3 separate regions of the Homo sapiens genome follow, and all the other regions are linked to region 2. The links come from fine-mapping of genetic effects on gene expression. A gene starts in region 2. Each other region holds a variant in brackets. All regions are shown on one strand. Distances are between the middles of the regions. Region 1 overlaps WDR37 (WD repeat domain 37). Region 2 holds the start of WDR37 (WD repeat domain 37). Region 3 overlaps GTPBP4 (GTP binding protein 4).

What was found.
Region 1: its variant is fine-mapped to the expression of WDR37 in regulatory T cells (Bossini-Castillo 2019, PIP 0.95).
Region 3: its variant is fine-mapped to the expression of WDR37 in whole blood (TOPMed, PIP above 0.99).

What each region holds. Positions count from the first base shown.
Region 1 is chr10:1,104,124-1,115,468 of GRCh38, reverse strand. It overlaps WDR37 (WD repeat domain 37), which reads right to left. Exons shown (of 14, transcript NM_014023.4): 11 at 10,202-10,343. Among named protein-coding and RNA genes, the nearest start is that of LINC00200, 50 kb to the left of the region's middle. RefSeq lists enhancers at 4,120-4,700, 5,077-5,226, 4,701-5,283, 4,601-5,800. The variant ATG/G (reference allele first, on the strand shown) is at 7,551.
Region 2 is chr10:1,050,933-1,061,214 of GRCh38, reverse strand. WDR37 (WD repeat domain 37) reads right to left here and starts at 4,830. Exons shown (of 14, transcript NM_014023.4): 1 at 4,247-4,830. It also overlaps a transcript of IDI1 not described here. RefSeq lists enhancers at 4,113-4,172, 4,273-4,332, 5,133-5,182 and silencers at 4,433-4,862, 5,293-5,352.
Region 3 is chr10:1,006,585-1,017,182 of GRCh38, reverse strand. It overlaps GTPBP4 (GTP binding protein 4), which reads right to left. Exons shown (of 17, transcript NM_012341.3): 10 at 10,055-10,165; 11 at 8,148-8,225; 12 at 7,603-7,654; 13 at 6,663-6,763; 14 at 4,521-4,718; 15 at 2,871-2,936; 16 at 1,287-1,430; 17 at 1-108. Among named protein-coding and RNA genes, the nearest start is that of IDI2-AS1, 11 kb to the left of the region's middle. RefSeq lists enhancers at 7,564-8,064, 8,065-8,565. The variant T/A (reference allele first, on the strand shown) is at 7,257.

The DNA.
Region 1 (11,345 bases), 54 kb before region 2:
ACATGATCTAGAACTCAGTGTTTAGTACCAAATCTCTCCCCCAGGTGTTTGGAAATAAAAGCACACAAACATGTCATCACTTCAAAGTGATCATTATAATTTCTCAACTGATCTTTTAAAATTTTGTTTGGTTAGATGTGTGTTTTGTTTTCTTTAGAAGAAAGCACCAAAGACCACATTTTGGGAATAAAGTTAAAATCGTTTGCAAAGAATTAAAAAGGAAGAAAACAAAAAACTTTGCATCCTCAAATATTGCATCCATGTTGAGATGATCTCCTGTTTTTTTCAATGCTAAAGTTTATCCGCATTGCAAACACTGCCAGCCCGGCACAAGGCAGAGCCACCTGCCACCCACAGAGGAGGCTTAATGGCCAGTGACACCTCGCCTGTCAGCTCCTTTTTATAGCAACCAAAATAACAACAACAAAAAAAAAAAAACAAAAAAGGGAGATGGGGAGGGGAGGAAAACTCTACGGGATTGGGGTGTGCTGAGGGAGGTCTGAGGGCTGAGGCTGAGATCTAAACAGGCAAATGTCATGACAGCAAAAGCCTCTTGCAGGCACGTCTATTCACCCACGGTCTGCACAGTGAGGGCCCACGCTGGAATGGCCTGCGTGTGGGTTCAGCCCCCTGGGTGTGTGCAAGGGAATGCAGCAGCCAGGAGAGGGCCAGACTTATGGAATTACACTGCCGGGTGAAAAACACACGAACAGAAAAGAACTTAGTTCAGGTGAAAAGCACTGACTTCCAGCTGCAGCTCCTGGTGGTTAGGACAAACACAGGCAATCTCGGAGCTTCTGCGGGTTCCGTTCATTCCAGAACACGCTGTGAGGTGAAGATCGCAGTAAGGCGGATCACAAGAGCTGTCTGGTTTTCCGGTGCATACAGAAGCCATAGCCACACCATCCTGTAGTCTGTTAAGTGAGCAACCGCATTACCTCTAAAAACGCAATGTGCATTTCTTAAGTAAGATAAATTTTACCACTAAAAAACACTAACAGTCATCTGAGCCTTTGGTAAGTCATAATCTTTTTGCTGGTGGAGGGTCCTGCCTCGATGCTGATGGCTGCTGACTGATAAGGGTGGTGGCTGCTGAAGGCTGGGGCAATTTCTTAAAATAGGACAGCAATGGAGTCTGCTATAGCAATTGATTTCTCCTTTTACAAAAGATTTCTCTACCGCATGTGATGCTGTTTAAAAGCATTTTACTGGGGCCAGGCATGGTGGCTCACGCCTGTAATCCCAGCACTTTGGGAGGCCAAGGCAGGTGGATCATTTGAGGTTAGCAGTTTGAGACCAGCTTGGCCGATGTGGTGAAACCCTGTCTCTACTAAAAATGTAAAAATTAGCCAGGCATGGTGGCAGGTGCCTGTAATCCCAGCTACTCGGGAGGCTGAGGCAGAAGAATTGTTTGAACCTGGGAGGCGGAGGTTGCAGTGAGCCAAGATAGCACCACTGCACTATAGCCTAGGCAACAGGGCAAGACTCCCATCTTAAAAAAAAAAAAAAAAAAAAAAAGGCATTTTACCCACAATTGAACCTCAAAACTGGAGTCAGTCCTCTCAAACCCTACCACTGCTTTACCACTGAAGTTTATGGAATATTCAAAATCCTTTGCTGTCATTTAAACAATGTTCACAGCATCTTCACCAAGAGTACCTTCCCACTCAAGAAACCACTTTCTTTGCTCATCCATAAGAAGCAGTTCCTCGTCCATTCAAATTTATTGTGAGATTGTAGCAATTCAGTCCCATCTTCAGGATCCACTTCTAATCCTAGTTATCTTCCTGTTTCCACCACACCTGCAGTGACTTTCTCCATTGAAGCCTTGAACCCCTCAACGTCTCTCAAATTCCTGTGACATTTTGACCTTCTCCCATGAATCACAAGTGTTCTGAATGGCGACCAGAATGATAAATCCTTTCCAGAAGGTGCTCAATTGACGTTGCCAAGGTCCATCAGAGGAATCACTATCTATGGCAGCTATAGCCTTACAAAGTGTATTTTTTAAATAATAAGACTCAAAAGTCAAAATGACTCCTTGAACCATGGGCTGCAGAATGGGGGTTGTGTTACCAGGCATGAAAACACCATTCATCTCCTTGTACATCTCCGTCAGAGCCCTTAGGTGCACTGTCAATAAGCAGGACAATTTTGAAAAAAAAGTTTTTTCCTGAGCAGTAGCCTCAACAATAGGCTCAAAATATTCAGAAACCATGGTGTAAACAGATGTGCTCTCATCCAGCCTTTGGTGATCCATTTATAGAGCACAGGCAGAGTAGGTTTCACATAATTCTTAAGGGCCCTAGGATTTTCAGAATGGTAAATGAGCACTGGCTTCAACTGTAAGTCACCAGCTGTACTAGCCCCTCACAAGAGCATCAGTCTGTCCTTCGAAGCCAGGCAGTGACTTCTCTTCTCTAGCTAGGAAAGTTCTACGTGGCATCTTCTTTAACAGAAGGCTGTTTTGTCTACACTGAAAATCTGTTATTAAACATAGTCATCTTCATCGATGATCCCAGCTGGATCTTCTGGAGAACTTGCTGCAGCTTCTCCATCAGCACTTGCTGCTTCACCTTGCACTCTCATGTTATGGAGACGGCTTCCTTCCTTAAACCTCATAAACCAACCTCTGCCAGCTTCCAGCTTTTCTTCCGCAGCTCCCTCACCTTTCTAAGCCCTCACAGAATTGAAGAGTCAGGGCCCTGCTCTGGATTAGGCTTTGGCTAAAGGGAATGTTGTGGCTGGTTTAATCAATGCAGACCACTCAAAGTTCCTTCATATCAGCATTAGGATTGTGTTCTTATCATTCGTGTGTTCACTGGAGTAGCAGTTTTACTTTCCTTCCAGAACTTTTCCTTTGCATTCAGAACCTGGCTGTCCAGTGCAGGATGCCCAGCTTTCAGCCTCTCTGCCTTCGACACATCTTCCTCACTAAGCTTCGTCATTTCCAGCTTTCAAGTGAGGGACACGCAACTCTTCATTTCAACACTGAGAGGCTGCTATAGGGATGTTAATTGGCCTAATTTCAACAGTGTTGTGTCTCACTCATGAAGTCAGAGGCATTAGGAGAAGGTGAGAGACGAAGGAACGGCCAGTTAGTGGGGCAGTCGGAACACACACGATTTATCGACTAAGTTCACTGTCTTCTATGGGCAAGGTTCCCAGGGCCTCAAAACCAATTATAACAGTTACAGCAAAAGTCACTGACCACCCTCATATAATCACAATGAAAAAGTAAGAAGTATTGTGAGAATGACCAAAATGTGAGAGAGAGGCAGGAAGTGAGCACGTGCTGTTGGAAAACTGGCACCAACAGACCTGCTCAGCCAGGGCTGGGCTCCACAGACCTTCATTTGCAAAAAACATCAATCTACGGAGTGCAATCAAACAAGGTGTAAGAAATAGCCACCAAGGCACGTGCCTGCAGTCCCAGCTACTTGGGAGGCTGAGGCAGGGGAATCGCTTGAACCCAGGAGGTGGAGGTTGCAGTGAGCCGAGATTGCACCACTGCACTCCAGCCTGGGCAACAGAGCGAGACTCCGTCTCACAAAAAAAAAAAAGAGAGAGAGAGAAATAGCCACCAACAGCTGAATTCCTGTGACACACTGAAATTTTCAAATTAAGCCTTTTTATTATTTCTAATAACAACACATACTACAACTTCACATTTCTGCTATATGAAGTATCTAAAATTGCTTTTCATATAAATCAGTACACGCTGGGTCACTAACAAACAGTCAAATAAAAACAGCCACACAGTTACGCCAACTAAGTACTATCATGGTAAAATTCCTGCTATAATACAGAGATGCCACAACACAGAGTGGAAAGAAATAAGACACATCAAAAGGAAAAGGTGACTGGTCCTTCTAAACACGTAGGATCAAAGCCTTCAGCAGCTCACAGCACGGAGCTCCATCCCCATCCAGCAAAGGTAATGACCACACGTTTCAGGGGACCCATTTCGCTACACTTTTCTTTCTTACAGTGAAGCATTGGAACTCAAACTCCAGTCTTTCAAAAAGGCACAGAATGCAAGTAAAAGTATGGGGATTACAGTAAGAAAAAAAAGAAAGTGGGGAAAAATCTCTCCTGGAAACTGGATCACAAAACTGGGCCAGTTACCTTAAGCCTTTAGAGCTACTTCTTGCCTTAAGAAAACCCAATATACAGCAATTCACCTTAACTAGACAGTTAATTATTTACATTATAAAAGACATTAGATTCCAACATACTATACTAAAGAATTTACGCTTAGTTCCTACAAGTGAAAATACGCCCTAAGATAAAACTTTGAAAAGCACATTCCACATCATGTTAATATAAATTATGTGAGAAAGGGTATTTTTAGTCACACATGTTGAAGAAATACTGCCTCTGTTTAAGGGGTATCACTAAAAACACCATGCATATAACTTTCCAGCCTACATCAACAAGAACAGCAAACTTCCTAAGAACACATGTCTGACTTTTGCTTTCAATGCTCAGGAAAAGAACTAGTGAAAAGAACTCAGGATCACCCTGTAAAACCGGCAGAGCTACTTCCCGGATGAGCAGGCAGTCCTGCAGGCCTCAGGCCCGGCCCTGGGCCAACATTCCCACCTATCAGGGTGCCAGGCCCTGTGGGTCTGGGCGCTAACACGCTGGACACCCATCGGAGGCTCACGGATGTCCTTGGCGATGCCGTGGCCACTGCAGAGAAGCCCCCGGCGCAGAGGGTCCCTCAGAATGACATGGTGGCAGGGAAGGCAGGGGACCCAGGGTGTGCTCTTACAAGTCATGTTCAGAACGTCCCAGACAAGTGACCAAACGGAACACACACACACAACCTGGCCATTCCTCTCAGGAACTAAACCCGCACCCCGGACCTCACCCAGGTGTGCTGGGGCGCGGACGCACATCTCAGGACCTAAACCGCACTGCGAGGCCCTCACCCTGGTGTGCTGTGGCGCGGATGCACAGCTCTACACATTTGTAAGGATCACGCACTCTGTAGGTTTTATTTGTCGTATTGGCTCGAACCTACAAAACCCATGCCGGAGACAAAGGCAAGTGTTACTAAGAAGACACCTCAGATGAAACATTTTTGTAAAATGACTCATTTCCTGCTTTTCTCATTATGAGGCACGTCTAAAGGTTTACAGCTGATCTGATGTCAGGAAGGAAGAGTTTGTGTTCAATAAAGGCGTCCACGGCTCCACCTGCTGACCAAGCCCTCATCCTGCATGCGCACAGCTGAGAAACCGCCAGGCCGGTGAGGGGAAGCTCAATGTCCAACAGCCCAGCGGACTCGCCCCGACACAGCAACAAAATTAGCGCCAAAGAGAGATCTTTTCAAAACGTATTTTTGGATGTACACATCAACAAGATACGCTAGTTCATGATAATTTGAGTAAGAAAAAAGAAAGCGTAAACGATCTGAGTAAGCATGGCCCGGGCAGGTCTGGTCCACGTTCACCTCACCCCCGTGGTTCAGGTGAATGGAAGCACAGCCTACAGCCTGGAAGACCCATGTGGGAGAAAGGGCACACGGGAATTACACACTCCACCTTACTCTACCCCCACACCTGATTCCAATAGGAAGACATAAACCCTAGGAAACTGTATTCATAGGTCCACATTAGTAAGAACTTTTTCATAACACTTACTACATTCTTCATAAGTACAGCTCTCTAAAAAACTACCATTGTTTCATGTATCCACTAGCTGCAAAAATGTACCACAAATTAACCAGAATTTTTTTTTTTCTGAGACGGAGTTTGGAGTTTCGCTCATTGCCCAGGCTGGAGTGCAACGGCGTGATCTCGGCTCACCGCAACCTCCACCTCCCAAGTTCAAGCGATTCTCCTGCCTCAGCCTCCCAAGTAGCTGGGATTACAGGCGTGCGCCACCACACCTGGCTAATTTTGTATTTTTAGTAAAGACAGAGTTTCTCCATGTTGGTCAAGCTGGTCTCAAACTCCCAGCCTCAGGTGATCCCCAAAGTGCTGGGATTACAGGCGTGAGCCACCGCGCCCAGCCTAAGCAGATATTTTAAAGATGCCACCAGCACTGACTTCACTTCACAGTCAAATGGCCAAGACCACACGGTTGCAACAGCCTTAGAAGCGAAAACATGCACTTGCAATCAACTCTGGTGATATAAATACAAAAACTTTTCTTTTTACACAAAACAAAAATAAAATCTTCCAGTTAAATATGGCAACTGAACAGAGACAATACAGGACTAGAAGGGTCTTAAATAACACAAGAGGCACCTTGAAGGCACCAGGAGGGACTGCTCTGGAATGACCCCCTAGAGCCAAACCCTCAGCAAACCACCTGGCCTCCTCATGCCTCAGTTTCTCTCTCTGAACTGGGGTGATGCCAGGGGCTCCAACAGTGCCTGGCACAAACCAGCAACTCACCAAGCCCTGGCTCCACTGCGTCCTCCTCTGGACAGAATTCTTCGGCCTTTCCATCCTGCCCTCAAAGGGGACAGGCACAGCAGGGCACACTGGCCTATCCCTGCAACCCCCATATCAGAAGCACATAGGAAGCTGCCCTGCTCTCTAGACACAAAACTACCCTCTTCACCCAATTCTCAAAGCTCTGACAGATTTTTGTGCTCCATACAGATGACCAGAGTCAATGCAGTGAGAGCTGCTGGGTCTTCCCAGCCTGGGGCAGGGAGCTGTGCCAGGATGGTGGCACTCAGGGCCCTGCAGGTTCCACGGGGGGGGGGGGCATCACAGAAGCCAAAACCAAAGCAACCACAGGGATCACAACCACCAACACCAACAAAGTGCAGGTGTCTATGCTCGCTAATACTCAAAAAACACAGTGCCAACTAACCAGTGTAGACAGAAGTACAAAGATCCCCTTCTGCAGGACTCAGCGTAACAATGAGCTGAAGCCCTGGACCGAGGAAAGGTCACTGGGGAATTAACATCCATAGAATAGTGTCGCTTCGCTATTTGAAACAGGAGAGCACCTCTGGCAGGCAGACCTGCAGACGCCATCTTAACTGCAGGAGCGCTTCAGCACACCAATAGCACAGCAGAGGGGCACTTAAAGGAAGTCATAAGAAAAATGCAGAATGAGGGGCGTTCTGCAAAAGAGCAGGCTTGGATTCTTCACCAAAAAACTCAATATCCTAAAAAGTAACAAAAAATGGGGGAAGGACCATTCTAGATTAAAAGAAGCCAAAGGACATAATATCTAAATGTGATGAGAGAATCCTGATTAAATCCTAGCTCTAAAAAAAGTATCAAAGACATTTTGGGGAGAACTGAGTAAATTTAAATGTGGACCAGATAAAGGATGCCATAGAATTTTTACTAATTTTCTTATTTGAACAATGGTACTGTATTAGGAGAACATCCTTATTCTTAGAAAATGCATGCTGGAGTTTTCCTTTCAAAGGGCTCAGCCAAAGAAAATATACAAGTGTGTGTTATAGACAGAGGTGTGTACACATCTACAGAGACAGCAGTGCTGCAATACAACAACAGGTGAACCTAGGTGAAGGATAAGTGGGCGTGTCTGTTACAGACAGGTGTGTACAC[ATG/G]TGTAAATAGAGACAGCAGTGCTGCAATACAACAACAGGCAAACCTAGGTGAAGGGGAAGTGGGCGTGTGTTTCAGAGAGAGGCGTGTACACATGTGTAAAGAGAGACAGCAGTGCTGCAATACAACAGGCGAACCTAGGTGACAGGGTAGTGCGTGTTGTGTGTTACAGACAGTGGTGTGTACACATGTGTAAAGAGAGACAGCAGTGCCGCAATACAACAGGTGAACCTAGGTGAAGGGTTAGTGGGCGTGTGTTTCAGAGAGAGGTGTGTACACATGTGTAAAGAGACAGCGGTGCTGCAATACAACAGGTGAACCTAGGTGAAGGGTTAGTGGGCGTGTGTTTCAGAGAGAGGTGTGTACACATGTGTAAAGAGACAGCAGTGCTGCAATACAACAGGCGAACCTAGGTGAAGGGTTTGTGGGTACACTGTACTACTCTGTTGGTTTTTATGTAGGCTTGAAACTTTTCTAAGCAAAAAGCTTAGGAAAGCACTGCAGGCGCAGGAGTGAGACCATCTTGCTCCTCCCGTCCTCTAGGCCTCCGACTGCCCTTCCAATGAATTCTCATGAGAAACAGCAGGGCAGTCATGCGGGCCCCTCTGCCCCGCCCTACACAGTGGTGCCAGGTGGTGGGCCCAGGTCCAGCCAGGGCTTTGCTGTGGGGCCCCTCTGCATCTGGTGGACGTCGGGGAGCACCACATCCAAGCTAACATGCATGGGAAGCAGCGCTCCCCGAGCTGCAGCATCTTCCTCACCAATGAGCTGGCCTGCAGCGGGGTCAGGCCCATGTGGCGGAGCTCATGGGGGCCCAGCTCAGCGCCTGCTGCACCCTGATGCAGCAACAACACAGTGCTGCGTTCAGCCACTGACCACCGGGAGGTCTGTATTACTATGGCTATCGCTGACGGAGCTGGCAGAATAAACGCTGACCTGATGTCAGGACGGAGCAGTTTAATGCGTGTGATGCCCCCAGAACAGACCCAGGCTGCCATAAAGATCTCTACGCATGGTCGTGACTGCTGCCTGCTCCCGTTCCAGCCTCAGAGTCAAGGAATTAGCTTTCCAATCTCAAGCTTCTTTTTAAAAACGTTGTCCTGGCCAGACGCGATGGCTCACACCTATAATCCCAGCACTTTGGTAGGCTGAGGCAGGCGGATCACCTGAGGTTAGGAGTTCAAGACCAGCCCAACCAACATGGTGAAACCCCACCTCTACTAAAAATACAAAAATTAACCAGGCATGGTGGTGGGCGCCTGTAATCCCAGCTACTAGGGAGGCTGAGGCAGGAGAATCGCTTGAACCCGGGAGGCAGAGGCTGCAGTGAGCCGAGATCATACCACTGCACTCCAGCCCGGGCGACAGAAAGAGACTCCGTCTATTAACAAACAAACAAACAAACAAAAAGTCCTATTTTCCTTTCCAACATCTTACTAACATTTTGAACATTAAATCTAAAACTTAGTAACTAACGTTAAACATATAAAACAGATTTTCATATTTGGAGTTCATTTATAAACCTTTCAATGCACACTGCTTATCCAGACGTCGGGGTGGAGAGCAGCACTGGTGGGAGGTAGGGGGAGCATGGAGGAGCGAGGAGCGGCCGGGAAGATCCCACAGGCATGGCTGGCAGGAGACTTGCCAGTGGACCACAGTGGGGCATGATGGGGGAACGGGGAACAGAGATTAAAAGAGAAGAACCAGGGAACACTCTAGGTAGACAGCCCCCGTGACTGGGCAGACGGTCTCATCATTGACTGAGCAGGGCCAGACTGGGGGAAGGAGACGGTCACGGAAAGAACTGAAGAGTTCTGTTAAGACCTTACACGGCTGGGCGCGGTGGCTCACGCCTGTAATCCCAGCACTTTGGGAGGCCGAGACAGGCGGATCACGACGTCAGGAGATCGAGACCATCCTGGCTATCACGGTGAAACCCCATCTCTACTAAAAATACAAAAAACTAGCCAGGCGTGGTGGCAGGTGCCTCTAGTCCCAGCTACTCGGGAGGCTGAGGCAGGAGAATGGCGTGAACCCGGGAGGCGGAGCTTGCAGTGAGCCGAGATAGCGCCACTGCACTCCAGCCTGGGCGACAGAGCGAGACTCCGTCTCAGAAAAAAAAGACCTTACACTTGAGTTGCCGGAGAGAAACCCAAGCAGAGAGGGACACACTGGATTGAGGGTCTATGTCTGTGTTTGCGCGTCTATGTGTATACCTTCTCCCAGAATATACCACGCAGACACGTGTAATAACAAAAACTAGATGGAAAAGATCCAGGAGACACCCCGTGGGTAGGAGTAACAGCTCCCGCGGCTCCTATGGTGGCGTGGCCGGCCCCTGTGCTCAGCTACAGGCTCTGGCAGCCCTGCTCTTCTCTAACCCTCTCCACCCACTCCCCCATTCTGTCTGCATTAAACTTCTTGAGAGAACTTCGGAGGGTGCCTTCTCTTAATCTCCTACATCCTTTGAAATAGCCAAAATGGAGCTAAATGTTTAGAAAAAGAATAGCAGAATTTGAAAGGTAGTTATTTTTTTGAAAGATAGTAGAGTCGGAAATACTGAAAATTAAGGCTAGAATTAAGTTTTCATGTCAACCCACAGAACTTTTTCATGACTAAGGACAGATGTCTAAACTACCGCAACTCACTCCGTGTGTCCCTGGAAAACATTCACCGAGTGGATGGAGGGGTCCCTGAAATCCCAGAGGCGGAAAGTCGTGTCACGGGAGGAGGTCACCACGAGCCGCTGGGTGGGGTGTGTGCAGCAGTGCGTCAACTCCTGGTCGTGCCCTGTAACCAAGATGGCAAAACACAAGGTCATCACCTGAGGAGCACGCTGAGAGAGACGCTTTTCAACAGCACAAGAACCCAAGAAGCCGTCTCTCTGAGACTGTGAACCTGACCTAATGGAATCACTCAGCAGCATGTGGGTCACAGTGGGGCAGGTTTTCCCTCAGAAGCTGAAGTCCTTTCAGCCGTCCATGTCAAAGGAACAGAAAACCAAACAGGTGCATAACCCATTTTCTGACCCTACCAGTTAGAAGGTCAGGCAAATTAACAGGTTGAATGTGAGAACCACTTAAATCTTGATTCTTTGCTTAGAATACCTTCTAATGATACAACGCTATGGGTCCTCAGTCAAATACAATCTTTAACGCTCATGCAGGAAATGCACTTAGAGATAGATTCGCAGAAGCAACTTCAGCAGGCAGCATCCCAAGATGGCCCCAAGCCACCCCCACCCCGTACATGCCTAACACCCTTCCCTTCAGTTAGGGCAGAGCCTGTAAATAGGATGAGATTATCTTTCTGGTAATTATGATACATTATAAGGCAAAAAGGATTTTGCAGATGTAATTAAGGTCCCTAAATGAGTTGACTTTGACTTCATCAAAGGGAATATTGTCCTGGGTGGTCTGGCCTAGCCCTTAAAAAGGGTCCCAGAAGTTGGAGAGTTCAGAGCAGCAGGGGAGCTCCAGCTGCAGAGGAAAGCGGCTGCTGTGTGGGAAAGGCAAGCCCTGTGCAGGGGCCCCAGGGCCAGACACAGCCTCTGCACGCCCAGAGGAGCCCCGGCTGGCAGCTGGCAAGAAGACAGGGCCTCAAACTCCAGACGCAAGAAGGAGCTCCTCCAATGACCAGCAGGCTTGGAAGAGGACCGCAGCCTTGGGGAGGTCCTGACCAGGCAGCACCCTCACTTAGGTCTTTGAGGGCCCAGGGAGAAGAGCAGCTACCACGGGCCCAGAATTACTGACCTGGGAAACCATGAGGCCGTCAATTCCTGTCGTTTTAAGA
Region 2 (10,282 bases):
AGTTGGTGGACTGGCAGATCTACCAGAGGCTGAAGAGCTACTACAAAGAATTGCTGTAAGGCTCAAATGGATCAATAAATACAAAGAGTCACTAATCCTCATAACATCCCTATGAGACAGAGTTCCCAAATCCAATTAAGAGCCTTTCAACACAGTCATACATCACTTAAGGATGGGGACAGGTTCTGAGAGATGCATCGTTACGTGATTTCGTCACTGTGGGAACATCGCAGAGTACACTTACACAAAGCTAGGTGCACAGCCTACTCCACACCTAGGCTAGATGGCCCAGCCTGCTGCTCCTAGCCTACAACCCTGCACAGCATGTTACTGTACTGAATACTGCAGACAACTGTAACACAATGGTATCTATTTGTGTACCTAAACATATCTACACATAGAAAAGGTACAGTAAAAATAGAGTATTACAATCTTATGGGACCACCATCTTACATGAGGTCTGTTGTTGACCAAAACATCATTTGTTATGTGGCACCCGATTGTATTTAACAGACTAAACACTAATAAACTGATTATAGAACTGTAAAGAGAAAAAACAAACTTCTTCACTCCAAATATAACCTTCTTTAACCTCTATGCACTGTTTTACCTAAATACAAGCAAAGAGAAACCTGAGATTCCAAAACGTAATTATTTTCCTTCAAAATATTCACATTTACCCAATATTATTGGACAGATTACCATATTACAAAGAAGGCTTATGGAGATTAAATGTCCTTCTGGTTTTCAATAAAACATTATTTTCAAGAAACTATAAATAGTCCCCTCTAAAAATTCAATCTCTTTATCCTACCATGGATTTAACAGAATAAACGCTCCTTCTGAACTCCTGACTCATTTAGTCTGTCCAGTTCACCTGCCCTTAGTATATGTTGCCGTGTACGTAATACACCCCACTGCTTGTAAGCAGTCAGAACAACAGGCACACAGCTGTGATGCAGCACAGTGCTCTACACACAGCAGGCACTGGCCAAACATTCGACTAATTAATGAAACCCATAAACACACTGTGTTAGCAAGCTGAATTCCTCATCTTTAGAAATGCTGTAATATTGGGCCAGGCATGATGGCTCATGCCCGTAATCCCAGCCTTTTGGGAGGCCCAGGCAGGCGGATCACCTGAGGTCAGGAGTTTAAGACCAGCCTGGCCAACATGGTGAAGTCCCGTCTCTACTAAAATACAAAAATCAGCTGGGCGTGATGGTACACGCCTCCCATCTACCCTGGAGGCTGAGGCACGAGAATTGCTCCACCCTGGGAGGTGGAGGCAGTGGTGAGCTGAGATCATGCCGCTGCACTCCAGCCTGCGTGACAGAAATGCTGTAATATTAAACAGCATCAATGAACACTTAGCTTTCTGCTCTTTCTCAAAAGATTCTTTTATATATATATTTTTTGAGACAGAGTCTCGCTCTGTCGCCCAGGTTGGAGTGCAGTGGCGCGATCTCGACCCACTGCAACCTCCACCTCCCGGGTTCAACCAATTCTCTGCCTCAGCCTCCTGAGTAGTTGGGGTTACAAGCACCCACCACCACGCCTGGCTAATTTTTTGTATTTTCAGTAGATACGGGGTTTCACCATCCTGGCCAGGCTGGTCTTGAACTCCTGACCTCATGATTCACCTGACCCAGCCTCCCAAAGTGCTGGGATTACAGGCATGAGCCACTGCGCCTGGCCAGATTCTTTTCAATATTTCCAATATTAATTAATTTGTAGCTATAGAAATTATCATTCTCCTAAGTGTGTATAATTTGAGGAAGGCAGATAACATAACCAAAGTAGCTTGAAACAGCAATACGACAAATTCTTTTCTTTTTGACACAGAATCTCGCTCTGTCTCCCCAGGCTGGAGGGCAGTGGCGTGATCTCGGCTAACCGCAACTTCTGCCTCCTGAGTTCAAGTGATTCTCCTGCTTCAGCCTCCTGAGTAGCTGGGACTACAAGTGCCCGCCACCATGCCCAGCTGATTTTTGTATTTTTAGTAGAGACGGGACTTCACCATGTTGGCCAGGGTGGTCTTGGACTGCTGACCTCAGGTGATCTGCCCACCTCGGCTTCCCAAAGTGCTGGGATTACAGGCATGAGCCACCACGCCCTGCCAACAAATTCTTAATTTACACTTTCATTTGAAACAAAAAACACAAAACATTACTTTCAGTTTCATATCCAGTAGGATTTTAAACATTTTTCTTTCATCAAAGCAAAAACACTTGCTTAAGTGGTTAATTTCACAAATGTTAATCACATGCAAAAGAATGGTTAAGGAATATAATGTCCATGTGGCATTAAAAATAAATTGGAGAAATAAATTGAAAATTGCATAAAATGTGATGGAATTTCCACCAGAAGTTTAATCAAGTTTGTAGTAACATTTTATCGTAATAACACTGTTAGACGAATTCCTAGTGGGCTGAGACACCAAATTCAACTTCTGAGCAATATCGAGGAAGAGAATGGTCTCTACAGGCAACCTCAGAAATCTGTCATCAGTATTAACCTGCTTAAAATGTTTTGTCATTGACGAAATGAAGGCATGGAATACATACACCATCAATTCTGTGGATGACAATCAATTAGGAAATACCATTAATCAGATAAATAGCCATCAAGATTTTCAAAAGATCTCAGTAGTTAAAAGAACAACTTTAAACCAAGGATGAAATTCAACAGATGTAAAATCTTTTCCCTGAAAAGAATAAGACAGGATAAATATGAAAACTCTATCTTAGTTTCACCTTGGGGAAAGGGACTTAGGGATTTTAGTTCAGGGCAAATGCCCAAAGTGAACAGCCTAACATAGCTACCCAAAAAGAGGAGGAGGGAAACACACTCACTCAAGATCTCCTGTATACAGCACTTTGCAAAAATGGCTGGCATATATTACATAACGTAACCTTCCCAGTAAGAAAATGAGGCTGATATGAACACCATGTTAGAGGACAGGGAGTCGGGACTTAGGAAGGCCTTGCCCAAGGTCACACTGCTGTTGAGACGTGGCCAGTGCACACGAGTCCCTACTCTGTCTCCTGTGAGCAGTATTAATAGAAAGGCAGCGTCTAAACCCAGGGGATAACAGATCACTCCATTTGTTCCACATTGGTGAGTTCATATTTACATACCGTGTTTAACTCCTGGGACATATCAAAAGCTATTTTGAAAGACTCGAATTTGATCAGGAAAGTAACCAGAACAGTGTGTGTGTCTGCTGGGGTTGGGGGAAGTTCAGAAGACGAAGAAAGTTCCTGGAGATATAACTATCTTGAGCTTTCTCATTCAGAGGTAAATAATTCCTGCAATACTTTTATGACCGTAACTCACAGGCCAACATACTGAATTTAAGAGAAAAACACTTGAACTTCAATAAATGAAACTTCCAAGCAATTAACACTTTTCTATAATGGTATCCGCTTCAAGGGACGAATGTTTTAGCGTTTAAGTTAAATGACAAAATCTCTAAAAACCTGGCAGACCTTAAGCTATTTTCACTCACAACCTGGAAAAATGTATTTATTCAACTTGGTTTAGTAAATGAGTACATTATTATTGTTGCTCTTGTGTTATTCCGGTGAACAGCTGTCTTAAAATGTTTCCCTCCAGCGGTGGCTGCTTTCAGGGGGAAGGGAAGGAAAAGGAAGTCTTCAAAAGGGGAACAATATCATGGCGCTGTGTTAATCACTTCAGCATCCGTCACTCCACACTCACCACCCTTCTTGAAGCCGACCATCCCCACTCTTTGGAGAGAAGAAAGGCCATTCTCCTCTCTGAAGGGCCTCCCAAGTGCTTCCCTGGAGACGCACTTCCCCGGGATGCCCAGGCCGAAGCAAAGGGGGCGGGGAGAGACCCCGGGCCGAACCCTTCTGCCCCCAACCCCTCCAGCGCCCCGACTCTTCCTGGACTCCGACATCTTCTGCACCGCCCCGGGCCCCCATCCCTCCCGCACCCTGGTCCCTCTGGCACCGCCACGGACTACTCCTGCGCCCCGACTTCTCTTGCACCCTGAACCCTTCTGCACCACGGCCCTTCCTGCACCGCCACGGGTCCTCCAGGGACCCGACCCCTCCTGCACCACCACGGACCCTCTGCATTCCAAGCCCACCTGCACCCCATCCGCCACTATGCCCCGACTGCCCCTGCACCCCCTTGAGCCCTGCAGTGTCCCGACTCCTCTTCGGGGCATCCGGGGAACGACTCGGCGCCTGACAGGTAGGAAGATGGCGGCACTCACCTGTCACAGCAGCTGCGCCCGCCACCCCCGGAGCCAGCCCAGGTCGCGCACCGCCAGTGAGTCCCTACGACGCGGCCCCCCGTACTGACCCGAAGACGCGCAGGACACCGCTGTCTCCGCACTGACGCGACCCCACAACCCCAACCTGGCGCTAATGCACTTCCGGTGTCGCCGGAAGTCCCGCCCCAGTCCCGCGCCGCTGGGTTCTCCGGAAGCCGCCCCACACCTCCGCCCCACACCCGGCGGCGCCGGAAGTCACGCCCCGGCTTCCGCCCCGCAGCCCCGAGGGGTCTGGGCGCGCTGAAGACCCCTTCGGCTGCTGGGCCAACGCCCCCACCCTTGGTCACGTACTCCTGCCGCCGAGCGGTTCGCGGGAGGTGGCCTCGGGGGTCGTAGCTACTCACCGGCGGGGCGCTCCGAGTCCATCTGCCCCGTAGCCCGGCAGCCGGGGCGGGAGGGCTGCGAGCCCGGGGCGCGGTCCGCCTGAGGCCTGAGACCCGGGGCCGCCTGCGCTCAGGGCCGCGGTGCCGGCCGCGCGGGAGCCTGGCGGGGACGGCGCGGTCAGTGTTCGGCTCCTCCGCAGTGACTCACCAGCGTCCTGAAGCTTTTGATCACCATTGGCTGGGAAGGAAAAACAGAATCAGCTGTTCCCTGCGAAAGGTGGGACTTGGGCCGCTTTTTTCTTAGAATCTAGGTTGGAAACGTCGCATGATGGTCTTTACGTAAACAGCCGTCTCAACGCTCTACAGAAAGCGCTAACCGCGCATTTGAAGCCCACCTAGAGTAAATCAAGAGCGTGAAAGCATTTTTTTTTTCTGTGTAGGTTAACATTCCTGCTCCTTCCTTTAAAAAGGAAGCTCAAGGCCAGGCGCGGTGGCTCACGCCTGTAATCCCAACACTTTGGGAGGCCGAGGCCGACGTATCACGAGATTAGGAGGTCGAGACCAGCCTGGCCAACATGGTGAAACCCTGTCTTTACTAAAAATACAAAAACTAGCCGGGCGTGGCGGCGCGCGCCTGTAACCCCTGCTACTCGGAAGGCTGAGGCAGGAGAATCGCTTGAACCCGGGAGGCGGAGGTTGCAGTGAGCCGAGATCGCGCCTCTGCACTCCAGCCTGGGACAGAGCGAGCCTCCGTCTCCAAAAAAAAATAAGGAAGCTCAAGATGAAGAGTCAGAAGTGGTAACTTGTTTGTTGCACAAGAAACAAATTTAGCATTCTATTTAGGGGATCCAGATTACCAAAAAAAAAAAAGAAGTGAAGTTATTTCTGCATTAAGTATATTAATAAAACTTTATCACTAAAAACAATTCTGTAAGAGGAACGCCAAGGAAAAAAATATTTGAGTTTTTAGAGAAGTCATTTTTTAAACTTTTAGAGGTTGTGACATTTAAGTAACATAATTTTATTTAGTACCTAGTATGCAAAGACATTGTACTGGGCATGGCAGCAAATAGAAAGCTTTGTAAATCGCAGTGTCCCATCTAATTAACCCGCATTCTAACAGGTGGTTTTATTTTTCTGGACCGCACCACAGTCAGGTAACACCAAGAATATCGCTAATGTAATTTTTTAAGTTGATATATTTAGGATTCCATAAAAGTCACTGAAAATAACTGAGAGCATGACATGTCACAAAACAAGGGAAAGAAATCATTTTGAGGATCAGTCGCTTTACATCTTTTGTAACTAATTTAATCCCCAAAGGAATCCAATAAAGTAAAAGTTATTCTAAATTGAATTTTAAGCATGAGAATGTGGAAATTACTCGTCAAAAGTCAAAAATAATCGTGCAGCAGGGCAAAGACTAAAGGCTGGCATCAGAATCCATATTCTTTTCACTGTTGATGTGCTAGGGCTGCAGGAACAAAATACTGCAAACTAGGCAGCTTAAACAAATTTATTGTCAGAGGTCTGACTGGAAGTCCCAAATCAAGGTATTGGCAGGGTTGATTCCTTCTGAGAGCTGTGATGGGAGCCTGTTAATGCATCTCAGCGTCTAGGCATTCCTTGGCTTGTGGCAGCATGCCCCCGCCAGTCTTCACATGACGTTTTCCATGTCCGTGTCTGTCTGCACACTTAGCGTTCTTTTTATGAGGACATCAGTCATATTGGAGTACAGTAGACGCTACTTTAATATGACCTCATGTTAACTAATCATATCCACAACAACCCTGTTTCCAAATAAGGTCACATTATAAAATACTGGAAGTGAGGTCTTTAACACATGAATTTGAAAGGGGGACACAATTTAACCCATAACACACTGTATCCTGAAATAACTATCCAATGTAATTTTTTTAAAAGACACAAAACTAGCCGAAATTATAAAAGGTTATGATTGCAATCCTGGTATCCAGTTACATTCTCCCTCCTGCAGAAGCTGTGGAGAATCCTGTCTCAGAAAACCAATTTCTATTTTGTCACATGTCCATCTATGCAAAATACATGTACTTTGTCCCTGACATAGGGCAACAATGCTGAATTTACTAAGACTCATTTTTGCGCATGGTTTGATAGGGAATTAAGATTTACTAGGTATTCTGTCATTGTCCTCATTACTGATTATTTTAACTGTGTCTCAAACACTTGGATAGTACACTATAGTGTTATAAGCTGTTTGACATGTCGCTTCCTAAATTCTCAAGTTATATATATGTGTGTATATATGTCATGTAACAGGCACAACTGTTTTCATGTGTATCACTTTATTGCACTTCACAGGTATCATATGTTTCTTACAAAGTGGAGGTTTGTGGCAGCCCTGCATGGAGCAAGTCTGTCAGCACCATCTTTCTAACAGTATGTGCTCACTTCATGTCTCTCTCACATTTTGGTAATTCTTGGAATGTTTCCGTTATTAAATCAGTTATAGTGATCTGTGATTAGTGATCTTTGATATTACTGTCATAATTGCTTGGGGGGCACCATGAACCACCCCTATATAAGACAGCAAACTGAGTCGATAAATGTTTTATGTGTTCTGACCACTGCACTGACCAGCTGCCTCCCTATCTCTCTCCTTCTGCTCAGACCTCCCTATCCTTGAGACACAGCAATACTGAAATTAGGGGCCAGGCATGGTGGTGGCTCATGCCTGTAGTCCCAGCTACTTGGGAGACTGAAGCAGGAGGATTGCTTGAGCCTAGGAGTTCGAGGCTGCAGTGAGCTGTGATCACGCCACTGCACTTCAGCATGGGCAGCAAAGCAAGACCCTGACTCAAAAAAAAAAAAAAATCAGGCAATTAATAGCCCTAAAATGGCTACTGTTTCATAAAAGAATGAGTTGCACATCTCTTACTTTAAATCAAAACTAGAAATGATTAATGATTAAGCATGGTGAGGAAGGCATGTTGAAACAGCTAAGTCGTGAATGCAAAGGAAAAGTTCTTGAAGGAAATTTGAAGTGCTCCTACAGTGAATACACAAATGGTAAGAAAATAAAACAGCTTTATTGCTGATATGGAGAAACTCTGAGTGGTCTGTATAGATTAAACCAGCCACAATATTCTGATAAAGCCTAATCCAGAGTAAGGCCCTAACTCTCTTCAGTTTTCTGAAGGCTGAGAGAGGTAAGGAAGCTACAGAAGAAAAATCTGAAGCTATCAGAGGTTGGTTCATGAGGTTGAAGGAAAGAAGCTGTCTCTATAATACAAAAGTGCAAGATAGGCCAGGCATGGTGGCTTATGCCTGTAATTCCAGCACTTTGGGAGGCCAATGCAAGTGGATCCCTTGAGGTGAGGAGTTCAAGACCAGCCTGGCCAACATGGTGAAACCCTGCCTCCACTAAAAATACAAAAATTAACTGGGTGTGGTGGCACACGCCTGTAGTCCCAGCTACTCAGGAGGCTAAGGCAGGAGGATCACTTGAACCCAGGAGTTGGAGGTTGCTGTAAGCCAAGATCACACCACCACACTCCTGGGTAACAGAGTGAGACTCCATCTCAAAAAAAAAAATGTGCAAGTGCAAGATAAAGCAGCAAGTCATCTAGGAGATCTACCTAAGATCACTGATGAAGACGGCTTTGCTAAACAATAGGTTTTCATTGGAGTTGAAACAACCTTATTTTGGGAAAAGATGCCGCCCAGGACTGTCATAACTAGAGAGGAGAAGTCAAAGCCTGGCTTCAGAGCTCCAAAGGACAGGCTGACCCTTGCTAGGGGGCTAGTGCAGCTGATGACTTTATGTTGAAGCCAGTGCTCATTTATCATTCTGAAAATCCTAGAGTCCTTAAGCGTTATGCTAATTCTAGTCTGCCTCTGCTGTGTAGATAGAACAACAAAGCCTAGATGACAGCACATCTACTTACACAGTGTGGTTTACTAAATATTGTCAGCCCACTGTTGTTGAGACCTACTGCTCAGGAAAAAAAAAAGATTTCGTTTCAAAATATTACTGCTGATTTACAGTGCTCCTGTTCACCCAAGAGCTCTGATGGAGATATACAAGGAGATTCATGTTGATTTCATGCCTGCTAACACAACATCCCTTTTGCAGCCCATAGCTCAAGAAGTCATTTTGACTTTCAAGTCTCATTATTTAAGAAATACATTTTGTAAGGCTATGGCTGCCCGAAGATGTAACTGAATCACTGCACTAGCATAATAAAACATGAATGGATAAGCAGTTGCTTCTTGTGGATGAACAAAGAAAGTGGTCTCTTGAGATGGAACCTAATCCTGGTGAAGATGTGAACACTGTTGAAATGATAACAAAGGATTCAGAATACTCCATAGACTTAGTTTATGAAGTAGCAGCAGGGTTTGAGAGGATTGACTCTAACTTTGGAAGTTTTCCTGGCCGGGTGCGGTGGCTCATGCCTATAATCCCAGCATTTTGAGAGGCCAAGGTGGGCAGATCACAAGGTCAGGAGTTCAAGACCAGCCTGGCCAACATGGTGAAACCCAAGCTCTACTAATAATACAAAAATTAGCCGGGCATGGTGGCACACGCCCATAGTGCCAGCTACTCATGAGGCTGAGGTAGGAGAATTGCTTGAACCCAGGAGGTGGAGGTTACAGTGAGCCAAGATCGCACCACTGCACTTCAGCCTGGGCGAAAGAACGAGACTCTGTCTCAAAAAAAAGTTTTCCTGTGGTTTAAAAAAAATCTTTCATGAAAAGAATTGTCAATCAACGTGACAAATTTCATTATTGTCTTATTTTAAGAAACTGCAACAGCCACCCCAACTTTCAAGCACCACCTTGATCAACAGCCATCAACATTGAGGCAAAACCCTCCACCAGCAAAAAGATTATGACTCATTGAAGGCTCAGCTGATGGTTAGCAGTAAAAAATATTAACTTTAATCATCTCGACCATTCAGTACTCATCTAATATTCTCTATAACAAAATGGGAAATGCACATAAAGCACTTCTGCTACATGCTGAATTATGATTGTTGTCTCCAGGAAAAGAACTTGTGGGAACGTTTGAGTTGTAAGCTGAACTAACTAGCTGCTTTTTTCATGAAATACCGCTTTTACTGGAAAGAACTGACAGATAAACTGAGGTATTCAAACCTAGATATTTGGCAGACATTTTCGTGAAAATAAATATGTTCGTGCCACTTCAAGGAACATAATTCTCAGTACTTGTTGCCAATAATGTTGGAATTTTCATGCAAAAATTCAAATAAAAAACAAACTTAAAACCATCAAGAACTTGGTGACTTTATGTGGAAGCCAGTGCTACAATACTTTAGCTTCCCAATACTTAAAAACTTTTCTGATGAGATTACTAGTGATATTAACAATGTGATTGATATTGAATAATGAAATGTTTTAGCATTTGGAAGATCTGTTTAATTCAGTAAATCAGTATTTTCCAAATGACCAATGCATGACATTTCAACATCACGCACAGGAAAATAGGCATTCGAGGTACAGTCAAAAATAATGAGTTTTAATGTAACAAGTACAAAATGTCCATTGAAGTGGTTTCAAATTCCAAATAGTAATTGGAAAATCCACCACTCGTGTTTTGGGGTAGTAGTATCGAAAAAGAATAACCAAGATAATTTGAAAAGGCTATTAA
Region 3 (10,598 bases), 44 kb after region 2:
GTGCTTGGGCTTCATATCAAACACGTGTCTATCCGCCTCCCCTTTCTTCCCCAACCGATTCATCTTCTTCTGAGCATTCTTCATCATAGTCTTGGCTTTCTTCACCATCTAAAAGGAGGAGAAAAAAATAAAGTATGTTCATTACTTAAAACCAATTTTCCATTCTGAATTTCAACTACTGGGTAACAATCTGTTTAATGGCTCAGGTCTGCTCAGCGAAGAGACCCTGTTACATCTCTTTTCTCTTAAGCCCAGCACAGTTATCCCTGTTACATCTCTTTTCTCTTAAGCCCAGCACAGTTACCCCTGTTACATCTCTTTTCTCTTAAGCCCAGCACAGTTACCCCTGTTACATCTCTTTTCTCTTAAGCCCAGCACAGTTATCCCTGTTACATCTCTTTTCTCTTAAGCCCAGCACAGTTATCTGCAGGAACTCAATGAGTATTTTTGTATAAAGACTGGATGAAAATCATACCCAGGACAAGCTTTATACCCAGGACTAGATACACTTTAGACCTAGAAGGTTAGCACACATCTGTTTTAACTCCCTCTTACACAAGCTAAGGACTCAGGCCCATGAACCTGTTTTCCTCAGGTCTGACTGACAAGTGGCAATGCCAATATTAACAGCCAGGTTTCAAGATGGCAATGGCACAGAGGAGTGAAGCTCAGGCTTCCATGAAGGAGACTGCAGTTTATACACAGACTCTCCTGCATCTCCATTACCACAACGCTGAAACTAAAAGTTGTTGTGTTTAATAAAAGGACGTTTCAGCAAGACAGACTGTGTCCATCTTAAGTGTCTTTGCCAAAAGACGCTACAAATAAACTAAATGTGACTCAAGCTCTCCACCTGGGGGGAACAATCCTGCAACCTAAGGATGAGCAGGATCACCCGCCAATCAACCCAGGAGTTCCCTCTGCTGTTCCTCCCATGGGGGGCTTGCTGGACTTGAGGCCTCCTGGTGCTCAGCTGTGGCCACTTCCTGGCCCTCTTCAGACAGCAGGGTCTAAGCCCAGACTGCTAGTGCTGTCAGACCATGCTCTGGCCACCCTCCGCAAAAGCAAAGTGCCAAGGAGGGGTCCATCCAGGGCAGCTGTCAGGGGCATCCACCTGCACCCTGACCCGTGCTCTCCTCTAAAGGATGCCACAAAACGAGGGCATGCAGTACACACAACCCCTGCCATAGTTCCTGCAAATGGCAACTGCTGGTGTTTGCCCTGAACCCTGTGCAATAAACAACAGAGACTGTCATTTTATTACATTACACAACACAGAGACTGACCTTGACATCCCTAAGACCAGAAACGTCACGTGGAGTTCGAGAGCAACTCCCACTCCGGGCCACAGAGGACGGGGGAGCAGAGTCTTCCCGCTTTCTTTTCCTAGTGATGCTCCGGGATCTTCTTGCCTGGACTGCGTAATGGGCCTGCAAAGCAGGGGAAGCAATGCTCAGCGCTCAGGACCCCAGGTCCACTCCCAGGCTCAGTGCTCAGCGCTCAGGACCCCAGGTCCACTCCCAGGCTCAGTGCTCAGCGCTCAGGACCCCAGGTCCACTCCCAGGCTCAGCGCTCAGGACCCCAGCCCCGCTCCCAGGCTCAGCGCTCAGGACCCCAGCCCCGCTCCCAGGCTCAGCGCTCAGGACCCCAGCCCCGCTCCCAGGCTCAGAGCTCAGGACCCCAGCCCCACTCCCAGGCTCAGCGCTCAGGACCCCAGCCCCACTCCCAGGCTCAGCGCTCAGGACCCCAGGTCCACTCCCAGGCTCAGCGCTCAGGACCCCAGGTCCACTCCCAGGCTCAGAGCTCAGGACCCCAGCCCCGCACCCAGGCTCAGCGACAGGCATGAGGTCACTCCAGCAAGAGGGGAGGAGAGGAGCGTCTGAACCATTAACACATGGGCTAAAGGTCTTGAAAATACACGCAGTATTTTCATATTAGTGACACCATTTCAAGTTCACATTAGTAACAATTTCACATTAGTTGTTGGTCAAATATTCTTATTCACTTAACGGAAGCTGCTTTACGTAAGAAAGCTGATTTTAACTCCACTTAAAGAAACTTAGAACTCTCATTTAAAAGTGATTATTATAGTATAGCATCACAATTTATATTTCAGATATAAACAATGCTCTCTCCCTCACTGCCCCATTTTGGGGGTTACTGATATGAACACAAAGGGACAACCATCAGACAGAAACCATCAGACGGAAACTGCAGACTGCACATCTAGAGGACAGGGTCTGCAGCCACACCCTGGGCACGTCATGGTGCTGTCTCGTGCTGGCTGTGGAGCTTTTTTTTTTTTGAGACACAGTCTTGCTCTGTTGCCCAGGCTGGAGTGCAGCCTCAATCCACCACTTCAACCCAGACCCAGGGTCAGGGAATCCTCAACCCATCACTTCAAGTCAGTCCCAGGGCCAGCGAATCTCAAAAGAGAAAAACTGGAAGCTCTCATTTCTTTTTGCTGTAATTTCCCACGTTCCCACGGCTTTCCAAAACCCTGGTTTCTTTCTTTCTTTTTTTTGAGATGGAGTCTCACTCTGTCGCCCAGGCTGGAGTACAGGGGCACGATCTCAGCTCACTGCAATCTCTGCCTCCCAAGTTCAAGCAATTCTCCTGCCTCAGCATCCTGAGTAACTGGGATTACAGGCACACGCCACCACGCCCGGCTAATTTTTTGTATTTTTTTTAGTACAGACTGGGTTTCACCATGTTGGCCAGGCTGGTCTCGAACCCCTGACATCATGATCTGCCCGCCTTGGCCTCCCAAAGTGCTGGGATTACAGGCATGAGCCACCACGCCCGGCCAGTTTTCTTTATTAAAAAGGTGTATCCAGCCACATAAACACATGAACCGCCCCCACACTCACATCGTCTTTATCGTCCATGTCAACACCAAGACTACGCATCTCCTTCTCCAAAACTGTCCTCTGAACCTGAGAAGGATAAAAAGAAATATTAGCTTTAAATTAGTTTGATGAAATGTTGAAAAAAACTTCAAGGCAATATATATGTATACATATTTTGCAACAATTATAATATACTTATTTTAGAAGTTGTAATTTTTATTGGGCCCCGCTTTCATGTTTTTGGATAGCTCAATTAAATCCCACGAAAACTAACATTAACAGAGCAGTTGCTGTGGGAAGAATCAGCGTATCCTCCACGTCTGTCCATTCTTCACCGCAACACGGGGGAGAGAGTGACCGTCTCCATCAGAGGTGAGACACTAAAGCTGAGGTTAGTGAGGTGGCCTCAGACAAAGGCAGTGCGCCAACCTCTCTCCTCCCAGAGATGGCTGAGCCCCACCTGGAGAAGTACAAAAATGTCCAAGTCCGCCATAACCAGTCACTTGCCACCATGTGAAAACAGTGTATTCAAACAGGAAGACCCACTGAGAGGCATCCTGAATGTCAAGTGACTTCTCTGGTTACATGTTAACTGCCCTGCATGTGGGCTTTCTTCCCCCAGTCCCACCCTGCCACAGAGCCAATAAATTGCCTTTTGTAGACTGCGTCAGGTTTCTGTAAATTGCTAAAGAGTCCAGATTTTTTTTTAAATTTTTTATTTTTTGAGATGGAGTCTTGCTCTGTTGCCCAGGCTGGAGTGCACTGGCACAATCTCGGCTCACTGCAAGCTCTGCCTCCCGGGTTCACACCATTTTCCTGCCCCAGCCTCCCGAGTAGCTGGGACTACAGGCGCCCGCCACCACGCCCAGCTAATTTTTCTGCATTTTTAGTAGAGACGGGGTTTCACTGTTTTAGCCAGGATGGTCTCAATCTCCTGACCTCGTGATCCACCCACCTCAGCCTCCCAAAGTGCTGAGATTACAGGCGTGAGCCACTGCGCCCGGCCTAAAGAGTCCAGATTTAATGCAGAAATTAAAGAACAAGAAAACCAGCCGGGCGTGGTGGCTCACGCCTGTAATCTCAGCACTTTGGGAGGCCAAGGCAGGCAGATCACTTGAGGTAAGGAGTTTGAGACCAGCCTGGCCAACATGGTGAAACCCCATCTCCACTAAAAATACAAAAGTTAGCCAGGCGTAGTGGCAGGTGCCTGTAATCCCAGCTACTCGGGAGGCTGAGGCAGGAGAATTGCTTGAACCCGCGAGGTGGAGGCTGCAGTGAGCCAAGATGGCGCCATTGCACTCCAGCCTGGGAGACACAGCAAGACTCCATCTCCCCCCTAAAAAAAAGAGAGAGAGAAAAAAGAAGAGGAAAATGTTCACTGATAGCCTTGAACGTCTGTGAACCATAAGTTACAGTTTTAATCTGTACAACTGCAAAATGACTGGATCTAGAGTAGTGCCAAACTCGAAGCTGAAAGTCACCAAGAAAGGACGCAGTAAAGAATATAAAAGATCAATACGTGAGCGATCTTGCAAATCCATACACCAATAAAACAAGAATGTGCAATCTTATGGCCATAAATGGGTTGAAAAGTTGTTATTTAGCAATGATCACACAGGAATCCAATTTTCAAAAACTAGATCACACTGCTTTGGAAAGACACAAACTTGCCTTCTTAGCAGTTCGCGGCATCCTGGGTCCCTGTGTATTCTTTTCTTTGGACTCCAGAATTTTCAACTTCTTTTTCTCTCGAATTTGCTTTGCCAGCTGTCGGATTTCCAGCATCTCTTCGTCTTCACTCTCAGATACACTGTCATACTCTCCAGCAGCTGTTCTCAGCTCTTCTTCTTTTTCTAATTCTTCCAATTTCTTTAAAAATGGAGTTGTAATGAAGCAAAATTAACAATGAGAAAACCCCTGAGTCAGTGAGTGTGGCAGAGTGTGTATGGGAGCTTTGTTTCCCTGACTCAGAGGAGAGCGATTGCCCTGGTCCAGACCCACCTGGGCCCTGCCTATGTGCCATTTACCTCACAGGGAGGGTTCTGTGAAGAAAATGGAGACCACGTGAACGCCAGCCGCCAGCAAGTCAGTAACCCCTGTGCACCATTTCCTTTTTTTAAAACAATTAAATTCCAAGGCTAAAAATGTGCAGAGACCGCCTCCTTCACTTCCAATGCTCCCGGCAGACACACACAAGGAACTCAGTCCTGAGACACTGATTTCGTGCCACATCCCACGTGTCCGTTCTAATGTCACCCCAAATACAACCTCACTGGCTACAAATAAGACAAAAATGAAAACTAAAACACACACGTTTATCACCCCCCAATGAGGCAACCCGGCCAGGAGCCCAGCAGGCAGATGTGCCTGTACGAGATGCTGGCCAGCAGTGCAGAGGGTGAGACGGGGGCCAGGCCTCGTGGAAGGGGATGGCACGGGCACAGCTGTGCGGAGGAGGGAAGTCTCAAGGCTTCTTGCGCCCAAGAGCGCGCACTGCAGAGGGGAAGAGGCTGGGAAGGCAGGCGGCCACCGCGGGGACAGTGAGGGCACGGGCTGGACTGGGGCCCCAGCAGAGGTGACAGCAGATGCCCTGAGGCCACTCCTCCAGCACCAACGAAATTGAGATTGTTGCCCCCAGAATCTGCTATCCCAGAATCTGCTATGGAGGCACAGGGAGCACAGAGACCACGAGACTGAAAATGTGAACTCAATGACGGAGGGCCTGTGGGAACCAAGGAGTGGCAACATGGGACATGCAGATGGCAAGTATTGTATAAAAAGAATGTTCCAGAGAGCTCAGCTGAGAGAAGAAGGCAGGACAGCAAGTATTGTATAAAAAGCATGTTCCAGAGAGCTCAGCTGAGAGCAGAAGGCAGGACAGCAAGTATTGTATAAGCATGTTAGCATGTTTCAGACAGCTCAGCTGAGAGAAGAAGGCAGGATAGCAACTAATGGAGGACACGGTCTAAGGATGTTTTCGTTTTTTAAAAAGATGAGTAAAACTTGTGGACTTTTATATGCTAAGAAAAAGCAAGTAGGGAGGGGATTGAGGCAGGAAAAAGATGTGACACAGCGGAGCCCCCAAGGAAGAGGGTCCAGCACAGCAGAGTCCATTAAGGGCCTGGCGGAGATACAGGGTGGGGAAGGTGGTGCAGGGGGCACAGTCAGGATGGAGGGATGCAGGAGAATGAAGGGGCCCAGCATCTCCACCAGAGTCTCGGGGTGGGGGGAAGAGGTGCAGGAGGCACAGTCAGGATGGAGGGATGCAGGAGAATGAAGGGCCCAGCACAGCAGAGCCCATCCAGGGCCTGGCGGAGACACAGGGTGGGGGGGAAGGTGGTGCAGGAGGCACAGTCAGGATGGAGGGGTGCAGGAGAATGAAGAGGCCCAGCATCTCCACCAGAGTCTCGGGGTGGGGAAGGTGGTGTAGGGGGCAGAGTCAGGATGGAGGGATGCAGGAGAATGAAGGGGCCCAGCATCTCCACCAGTGTCGGGACAGGGAAGAGGTGCAGGAGGCAGAGTCAGGATGGAGGGGTGCAGGATAACGAAGGGGCCCAGCATCTCCACCAGAGTGTCCGGGGTGGGTGGGTGGAGGCGGCGGGAAGGGGGCAGGCCAGCATAGCAGAGCCCAGCCAGGGCCAGTATCTCCACCAGAGTCTCAGGGTGGGGAAGTGGTACAGGGGGCAGAGTCAGGATGGAGGGGTGCAGAATGAAGCGGACAGGCCCAGCTGAGCCGAAGCCATGCTGCTATCTTCCAGCAATACTACTATAATAAAAAGGAAAACAATCCGCAATTTAAAAAGTGACACAAACCTTCATGATGGCTGGATCAATATAATCAGCTATATTATGGCCTTCCCAGATTTCTGGTATCTTATCATGTTTTTCAGACAAATTCATTAAATCCCAGTACTCTAAAGTTAAAAAAAAGGTGGTTACGTTTACAGCAGTTTTTAATATCTTCAAGTACTACGTGCGCAAAATGAGTTGTGACTGACGGCAAATCAACGACTCCACTGCAGAAGAGAGCACGACGTGCAATTCCACATGCAGCAGCATCAACACATCAGCCTCATTCAACACCCACACGTGGAGAAAGCTACAGAAATCACCCCACCATCCCAAAACAACAGGAAACAACACATCAGCCTCATTCAACACCCACACGTGGAGAAAGCTACAGAAATCACCCCACCATCCCAAAACAACAGGAAACAACACATCAGCCTCATTCAACACCCACACGTGGAGAAAGCTACAGAAATCACCCCACCATCCCAAAACAACAGGAAACAATGGAAGAACCCCCACTGAGTGCTATCAGCATGCACCTTTCTTTGAGACAGAGTCTCACTCTGTCGTCCAGGCTGGAGGGCAGAGGTACAATTTCTGCCCACTGCAGCCTTG[T/A]CCTCCTAGGGTCAAGTGATCCTCCCACCTCAGCCTCCCGTGTCACTGGAACTACAGGCACATGCCACCACACCCGGCTAATCTTTGTATTTTTTGTAGAGACGGGGTTCTGCCATGTTGCCCAGGTTGGTCTCAAACTCCTGGGCATAAGGGATCCAAAGTGCTGTGATTACAGGCGTGAGCCACTGCACCTGGCCCTCAGGATGCAACTTTTAATCTTCAAGAAATTAAAAGTTGACAAATAGGCTGAAACACTTTTATTACTTATTAAAGTCTTTCCCCCATTTTCTGAAATACTTCACGTCCAATTGGCATTTTATAATAATGATCACACTCTGGCCCTTACTCTGAAGATCCAAAATATAATCATCTCCCATTTCCAGCTCAAGATCTCGTTCCTGCAATAGAAAGAGAAATTATCATCAGCTTCATTTTGCCTTTCAGATCCAGAAATGCTCTGCCCCTTGTCACTTGAAACAATCTTTTCTCCAATCCTCTCAGTATCAGTGGGGTTCACCTTCCATTTCTGGTAGGAAGGCTGTTTCTTATCTCCCTGTCTGCGGGGCCAGCCTTTGGGTTCTGGTAGGAAGAGGCTGTTTCTTATCTCCCTGTCTGTGGGGCCGGCCTTTAGGTTCTGGTAGGAAGAGGCTGTTTCTGGCCATCTGGGGACTGTCTATCCCACTCATGCATTTGGTTCACGGCCATCTTCCCTCAGGCCAAAGAGCCCCATGAGAGAGGCTTCTGCAGGGGGACTCACTGCTGTGTCCGCAGCCTGACGGGGCCAGTGTCTGGGCACCCGCGGCTCCTGTTCGATGCCCCAGGCCCCCACGATGGGCACACACAGCCTGCCTCCCCCCATGAGAACACTGGGCGAGAGCTTCGGCAGCATACCCTCTTCTTCCTGGACTCCTCAGTTTCCATCCTCTTCCTGCGAGCCACCACTCCTTCAGGGATGAAAGGGGGCCTCTCCTGAGAAGATCCCATATAAAATATTTATGTGAAATGCCTGCTGAATGAGAAACTTACAAAGCCGAAAAAGTAGAAACAAATTCCCTACGTGCAAGGGGAACAGAAAACCATACCCAGACCAATGAACAACCAACAGATTATTTTAGGGGAGAGGAGTGGGTTCATACCGAGACCAATTAACAACCAACAGATTATTTTAGGGGAGAGGAGTGGGTTCAGGGTCACTTTGAGCACAGAGACCAGGAGGACTCCACAAAGTGATTCCAAAGTTTATCCAGGAAAAACAGAAATCATGATTATCATGAAAAATTATGGAAGAAGAAAGTGGTAAGAAATAACACTGGATCAACAGATGAAAGAAATTTAGACATAAACTCAAGTGCATATAAGAATTCAATGGAAACATAAAATTTCCAATACTCAGGTCAGAAATGCCGACCACTTGAAACGGAGTGCAACCTCCACCCTCACAACATAACCAACTCAAGACACGGTGAAGACTATCCAAAAAAGCTAATTTTTAATGCTAGTATAAAAGATAATTTTTTTTTTTTGACAGAGTCTCACTCTTGTCACCCAGGCTGGAGTACAGTGGAGTGATCTCGGCTCACTGCAACCTCCACCTCCCAGGTTCAAACGATTCTCCCGCCTCAGCCTCCTGAATAGGTAGAATTATAGGTGCGCGCCCGACTAATTTTCGTAGTTTTAGCAGAGATGGGGTTTCACCATGATTGCCAGGCTGGTCTCAGACTCTTGACCTCAGGTGATCCACCCGCCTCGGCCTCCCAGAGTGCTGGGATTACAGACGTGAGCCACTGCACCCAGCAAGAAAAGATACTTTTAAAATGACTTTGGAATGAATGGTAAGCCTTTCTATGTACAATGCAAACCTGAACACCCAGAAAAAAAAATTAATATATGTTAATAGTTCAAAAATGTACAGCACATTTGAAGTTAAAAAGGCAAGTGACAAAAAGAGAAAAAAATTTGCAATGTATCTGACAAGAATCCAACCTTTGTAATACAAAAGTAACAAATCAGCGAGAAAAAGATAAACAGCCTAAAGAACTTTGAAAAGGCCAATAAGCAGACAAACATGCTCAACCGCACCCAGCATTACATAAACACACAACAATAAAATCATCTTTACACAAGACTGACAGTCAGTGCCCGACCACGCCGAGGACACAAGGAAAGACAGAGGGAAGGACACAGCCTCCAGCGTCAGTGCAGCACACACCAGGAAGGCGTCTGTGGGACAGGAACGTTGTCAACACCACATGGTGAAGTGCAGACACATTTGCAGTAAAACATGAAGACACAGCGTAACGATGTGTGCCCATTCACAATGGACAAAACAATGAAAATTTATTTTATTTATTTTTTATAGAGACAGGGTCCCACTATGTTGCCCAGGCTGGTCAAGAACTCCTGGGCTTAAGCAATCTTCCCACCTTGGCCTCCCAAAGTGCTGGGATTACAGGCGTGAGCTACTTCCCCCAGCCAAAAAAATGAAAATTTAAAGAATGAAACAGATTTCCATCTGTGTTTAAAGAACTTTTTAGAAACTAATCTTCTATATCAGAAACATTTCTGGAAGGATAAACTAACAGTGACCACGTCATGCAGTGGGAAACGGGTGCCATGTGGCGTTCTGCACTTTCTTCACCTTCTCGATCCTTTATGTAAGCAAGAAGGTGAAACTGAGGCCCACCCACAATATCCACCTGCGAGTGTGTGAAGCTGGATGGGAGGCTTCTGGAAAAGGCACGCAGACAGCACCTGCTGACAGTACTGTGAGCCCACGGCTGTCCCAGGGGCCGTCTTACCTTATCGTCCCTCCTGGTTGGGATAGCCAGGTGCAGTCTATTCAGCACCTCATTCACTTTATTTCCCTTCATTTTGGTTTCCACTCGATGAGCCAAAAGCCTATCGCAAGCCTAATAACGTAAAAAAGAAGGCACAGTCACAAACGCATCCTCCAGCAGCCTCCAGCTACAGGTTCCAGGAGGAGCCACAGATCAGAGCCACTGAGCCTTTTCCCTCAAGGTAACTAACACGTAGGGGGCCACATTCTCTGAGGCCCAGGTGGAAGCGGCCCTGAGGGAAGGTGCATCTCCAGTGCCTGGGCCTCTCTCCCACCACAGTGACCCTCTGCACAGACGGTGCCCTCCAACTGCCCTTCACGAACCGGAGGCAATGTTGCCCCTCAGGACTCTAACCGAGCAACAAATTCCTGAGTGCGACCATGGCATCAGGAGTGCCATCTTTTTAAATCCTGAGTGCGACCATGGCATCAGGAGTGCCATCTTTTTTTTTGAGATGGTATCTCGCTCTTGCTGCCCAGGCTGTAGTGCAGTGGCATGATCTCAG